Homo sapiens: one gene and its partner. The protein of the gene in region 1 purifies or fractionates together with the protein of each later gene. This does not show direct contact. Each region holds a gene or a part of one and is shown in the gene's direction. Other genes may lie near its edges.

Region 1 (2,675 bases):
GTTTTTTTTTTTTAATCAAGACCATTGTTTCATGTTAATGCAGCTGCTGAGAAGATTTTTTTTTAATGACTGAGAAAACTTGTTTACAGCTCCAGCATATAAGGAAAGTGTTCAAGGCCAGATATGCCTCAGATATTTAACCAGTAAGCCTTAGTTGTACATAAATACTTTTGTGTCAACAAAAACTTTCAGCTCTCACAGAAGACAGTTACTCAACATTTTTTGATGTGCCACAGTTTCGAGTTTTTCGATATTTAAATTTTTTGGCTTTTCATCTAAGTTTGGGTTTGTATTTTTTCCTTCTAAACTCTTCATGTGGCAGAGTCTTCTATGTTTTCACAGCTTTTTCATTACAGAAAAGAACACTTGCTCTTCTGTGATTATTGTCATGTATTAGGCTAATGCTGTGTTGTCTCCCACCTGGAACTGAATTGCTTGGTGGAACATATGCTTTCACTGTTTGTGCAATATGCATTTATTTCTTATATGAATGCTTTAAAGTCATTTGAGGTTAGATCTTTTAATTCCTATTTTCTGCTTCATTGGTCACTTTTTTTTTATTGTAGTATAAGATGTTAGATTCTGTAATCTTCACATTCATTTTAGCAGGTACTGAGTGATGCTGTATATACAAATAAGTGTATTGTTTTGATTTTTAGACCACCACATGGCATGCTTGACTATTTCTTATTTCAAATGTCTGCTAATGCAGAGTAGGCTACTCCATGATAGTGTTAAAAAACAAAATTTGCTAACAATGTGATATAAAGACTTTAAAAGTTACACATTATGTGGAGCCCTATCTTTACAAAAGTTTCCTACTGTAAAGTGCTTTTATTTTCAGTTTTCACTTGATAGTACTCAACCATAATTAAAGTTGCATAAGATAATTGCTTTACATTTCACATACCTATATTTATCTGAGTGCTGTCTAAAACTGTTGTGCTAGCCAAAGTAATGCTATGAAATCATTTGCAGAATTAACCCGTGAGTTAATGTTAAATGCACTGTTATTGCCATGTGAAGAGGCATCGACTTTGATACCACCATCATGTTCAGACCATTTTATACATTTCAGTGGCCTTTTTTTTTTTTTAAGGAAAAAAAAGCGCAAAACCAAGTACATAGTGACGATGGCTTTTATTTGGACAAATAGCTTTTATATTTTCATTAAACCATGCAAAAAATACTACATCTTTCTGGCACATAACTGTCTCCTTAACCACTGAACAGTTCAGCCATTTGAATAAATTGTACATTGTAAAGCTTATAGTAGCTGATTGTATTATTGATTGTATTGTATACTATATTAAATGTGAATTTGTACCCCTTCATTTTAAAAGGTCATTGTGTTCTACTGCCTATTTTAGATTACTTTGGGGTTGGGGAAGGGTGTTTTGGTAAGCAGGATTTTAAGTCCTCTCTCTCTCGATTGGTTTTATGAAGATATAAGGTTATGCTCTTACTACCAAGCTCAGGATTCTTGATTTTAAAGGTACAAGGATAGTTGTGGGAGTTTTATTTTTGGTTATATTTGAACTGTATGAATGGTAGGTCTGAATATTGAGAATTTCCATGGTCTTATGTGGAGGTAAAATATACAGATAACTGATCAGTTTGAGTGACTGCAACATGTTCTGGTTGCACAACAGTTAGGCATGCTATGGTTTATATTTGTGAAGTTTGGATGCCTGTGAAGAATGATTAAATACATGTTTCTAATATTTTAGTGTTTTGTATTTAGGTTATTTATTCTTTGTATCTAAAACTGAACAGCTACTGTGCTATATTGATTTTATTGGTAGTATTGAGCAGACCTTGTTTCTGCATGAAACTAGTTGCAAAACCCACTATTTTGGAAATAAAAATGTATTTTGACATATACAAATAAAATGAATAAAACTATTTTAAATGTGTGAACTTTTAATGAAGACATTTTAAATTTTGTTCTGAGATATTTAAATTCTGCATGGGTATTTTTTCACTAATTGCTTTACTTGGATACCAATTTGAATAATTTCTGAAATTGTAATATTGTGATAATTTGCACAGCATTGTACATGCACATCTGTAAATGCAATCTTAATTGCCATATTTATGCAATCTGTGTACCAATTTGGACAAATGTTTATATATTTTACATAAAGCTGTCTGTATGCAGAATCTGAGAACTAGTTTTTTTATGATAATAAGTGGGTAAAAATTAATAACAGTGAGTTTCAGGGTAGTTGCTTTGTAGCACAAGATTTCGCTTCCATAAACATTGTTTTTTTTTTTTTTCTTAAAGTAAACCTGTGCTTTTTCTTATCTGCAAACATAGGCTTAGCGATACATATAAAGGTAATATTCCATTGAAACATACAGTTTACTTTAATATTAGATCATTTTCCAATTTAGATTTGTCCAAGGTTCGACCTGCTAACACATCTATAAATAAGAGGCACTTTTAGCCAGGCATGGTTGGGAGGCCCAGGCGGGAGGATCACCTGAGGTCAGGGGTTTGAGACCAGCCTGGCCAACAGGGCGAAACCCCGTTTCTACTAAAAATAAAAAATGAGCCAGGTATGATGGTGCAATCGCCTGTAGTCCCAGCTACTCAGGAGGCTGAGACAGGAGAATCACTTGAACCAGGGAGGCAGAGGTTGTAGTGAGCCAAGATTGTGCCACTGCACTTC
Region 2 (3,660 bases), on another chromosome or scaffold:
AATACAACATAAATTTCAAAGTCTCCCTAATATTTTATTCTTTAAACAGGCACAGAAAGCCTTCCAAACATCTTTATTTGGCAGGCAGTGTAAACTTGCTTTTTATGGAAGCTTTGTGTCTGTTAGAGATGAGAAGAAAGGGTGAGGTTTGTGATTAAGTTTGGATGGACTTGACCATATGAGTAAGCCTGAAGGCAGAGTAGGTTTTTTTAATTCAAGGATAATTATTTTCCTTGGCAGGGATTTCAAACATTATTTGGCAACTGAAATATCAGAAATACAGGCCCATAAGAAAGACATCTTTGGCTATAAATTTGTTTTACAGGTAAATACTATATAAAGGAAACTTTGATAATTTGTTTAAATTAGAAACACTAAATTTTTTAAGCTAAGTCGATACTAGGTCCACCTCAGGAAATAACTTTCCTGGAGTGAGAAGGACTCACTGACTTGATCACTATATAGAGTATTTTTATTTCTGATGAAGCATTTTTTTCTTCATTTTTTTTTCCAGTTTTCCATCATTCTGGGAGGATTTTAAGTGTTTAACAAGGTTTTTGTCATGTTTAGAAATACGGAAAGCAGACTTAAGCATAGAAAAGCTTTATTTTCTTACATTCTGATAGAGAACTATGAAACTCCCACACCTTTGCTTTTTGTGTTTTCTTACATGATACCTTCAGGCTACTCTTGTTAGTTTGACCATGCACAGGGAAATAAGCCTAGAATTTGCTTTTCTCTATTTTTATTATCCAAATAAAGCCAGTAGTACTCTCAGAAAATTCTCATCTCTCAGGTGTCCTCCCTCTCGTGGTAACATCAGAACAGAGATAGATACTTATCTACCTATGCCAGTGAACACAGTTGTGTTGTTCAATTTTTAAGGTATTTTTAGATGATAAATATTGATGTAAGTGGAGACAGTTGACCTGAACAGCAAGTTTGTTGGAGTTCTACTTCCAGCTCTGCTGAATTGGGCAAGTTCTCCTCCAAATCAAGCAAGCCCTTTCCTGTCTCCCTGCCATATATACCCATCTGTTAAGTATTTGTACCACTAGCATACTCAAACTGAGACATAATTTTTTTTAGGATACCAAAGCCTTAGAAATTTTAGTCAATTTGTTAAGTATAATAGCAGCTCAAATAGATGAGTAAAAAAGAACAATCTCAGTAACAACTTCGATATATAATTCACATACCATGAAATCTACCCTGTTGAAGTATGCCTTTAAGTTCAGTGGTTTTTAGTATATTTACAAGGTTGTGCAGCCATCACCACTATCTGACCTAAGGACATTTTCATCACCCCAAAAAGAAAGCCTGTACCCATTAGTAGTCACTTTCTATTTCTCCCTCCCCTCAGCCCCTAGGTAACCACCAATTTCCTTTAGGTCTCTATAGATTTACTTGTTGATGACATTTCATATAAATGGAGTCATACAATGTGTGGTCTTTTATGACTTGCTTCTTTCACTTAGTTTTTTTTGTTTTGTTTTGTTTGTTTGTTTTTTGAGATGGAGTTTCACTCTTGTTGCCCAGGCTGGAGTGCAGTGGTGCGATTTCGGCTCACTGAACCTCCGCCTCCCAGGTTCAAGCGATTCTCCTGCCTCAGCCTCCCAAGTAGCTGGGATTACAGGCATGTGCCATCATGCCCGGCTAATTTTGTGTTTTTAGTAGAGAGGGTTTTGCCATGTTGGCCAGGTTGGTTTCAAACATCTGACCTCAGGTGATCCACCCACCTCGGCCTCCCAAAGTGCTGGGATTACAGGTGTGAGCCACAGTGCCCAGCCTTCACTTAGCATTATGTTTTTAAGATTCATCCATGTGGTGGTAGCATGTGTCAATACCTCATTCCTTTTTATGGCTGAGTAATATCACATTGTATAGACATACTGTGTTTTTAAAATCTATTCATCAGTTGAGGAACAGTTTTAGAAAATGAATAGTTGTTAAACCTGAATTTTTTCAAGAGGACTAAGGGCTGTTTATTGACTTACTTTGGCCATATTTCAATAAGGTTCTACCTTCCCATTTTGAACCTGGTAACTAATTCTGTAGGACATCATCTTCCAAAAAGCTTTACTCTTGCTCTGCTAGCCTATCTAGCTAAAGAGCTTCTCTGAGTAAGGCATTTATGAATACCAAAGAAAAAGGTATGAGTACTATCATCTTATTCTCACCCTTAAAAGGGGGCAAAATATAATTTAAAAAACCACATGTGTTTGCCTAAAAGACCTTTTATGTACCCCCTTGGTCTCTCCCTGGGTACTTAACAAAGTGTGCTATGGGTATACAAGAAAACTGGGCTGTTATTTAGCCATCACATTGGTACAGCTGAATCAATTTTTAAAATACTGAAATTATTCTCTGCTAGTAGGTCAAAAGCCATCACTGCAGGTATCCATTGCCTACCTTTGTCCCAATAACTTCTGTAGTGCCCCCATATCTCAGCAAATAAAGGGGAGTAATCCTTGGCACAGCAGAAGGCCTCTGGGTTAACAATGGTTGTAAAACGTTAAACGTTGTGACTGTTACCTCAGAAGGTCAACCAAAGATGTTTTTGCAAAGTTAAAGGAACATCAAGGTGGGAGACTTGAGCCTAGTCACAGCTTTGTTATTAGCTAACTATGTGGTATCCCCTAAGCTGCTCCTGTACCTCTTGTGTCTTGAGCTCTCATATCAGAAGAGTGACACCTACCCTAGCTACCATACAAGATGATTATGAGAGATAGTAAAGTTCTGAAACCTATACTATATCCCCTTTCGTCTGTGGAATTATCACTACTTTTGCTTTGGTTTTTTGTAGGAAAATATTTTGAAATATTTTCAGAGTAAATAAATATTGACAGAAATGCAAAAGATTGTATTATACCCTAAACTTTACTACCTGCTTTGCACAAAAGACTTGCTGAAAATAGGTTTTTGATTGAGTCATATGAACTTTCTGATTATTAACTCTAGTTCTACTGAAGTTTTCTTCCAAATAGACACTAAAATCTGAAGAAAAGTATTATCACTAGTGTTTTTATTTTTCCCTCATATTAGGTGTATATCAAATCAGCAAACAAATCAAAGCTCATGATGGCAGTGTGTTCACACTTTGTCAGATGAGAAATGGGATGTTATTAACTGGAGGAGGGAAAGACAGAAAAATAATTCTGTGGGATCATGATCTGAATCCTGAAAGAGAAATAGAGGTAAGGATGGAAACGGAATATAAAAATATTAAATACTCTAAACTCAGGTATTTTGTCCCACATTAAGATAACTTATACTTTTCTGGCAAACTTATTAAATTCTTATAATTTCATTTCCTTTCCTCAAGAAAGGAGTTTGTTGTTGCCTTTAAGATAACTTTTTTCAAAAAAAAAAGACCATTAAAATAATTTGAAAGACTATTTTTAAAGATTAGGCAGAATAATTTGCCTGTTAAAACCAGAGCAAATGTCACAAAGTTTAATTTTTCTTCTCTTTTTTGGTGATTTATATTTTGGATTTATGCTTAGTGTTTTTTTTTCTACGTGTAGCATTCTTTCCAGAGAAAATCTTCTGGAAAATCCTCTTAAAAAGAGGATCCTGATAGTACTGCTCTTGGATTTTATTTCCAGGAAGATAGATAATAAAGAGTTGCTTAATCACAACCTTCAGTTCATACTGAAA

The links. Proteins that work in one complex are often made in the same cells at the same time.
Region 2: the proteins of PPP1R12A (region 1) and EML4 fractionate together in Homo sapiens (co-fractionation; one large-scale study listed by BioGRID). This does not show direct contact.

What each region holds. Positions count from the first base shown.
Region 1 is NC_000012.12:79,773,056-79,775,730, reverse strand, and holds the end of PPP1R12A (protein phosphatase 1 regulatory subunit 12A), read left to right. Parts: 3' UTR 1-2,163; downstream 2,164-2,675. UniProt on the Homo sapiens protein: Key regulator of protein phosphatase 1C (PPP1C). Mediates binding to myosin. As part of the PPP1C complex, involved in dephosphorylation of PLK1. Capable of inhibiting HIF1AN-dependent suppression of HIF1A activity.
Region 2 is NC_000002.12:42,298,196-42,301,855, forward strand, and holds part of EML4 (echinoderm microtubule-associated protein-like 4), read left to right. Parts: intron 1-3,045; coding exon 3,046-3,197; intron 3,198-3,660. UniProt on the Homo sapiens protein: Essential for the formation and stability of microtubules (MTs). Required for the organization of the mitotic spindle and for the proper attachment of kinetochores to MTs. Promotes the recruitment of NUDC to the mitotic spindle for mitotic progression.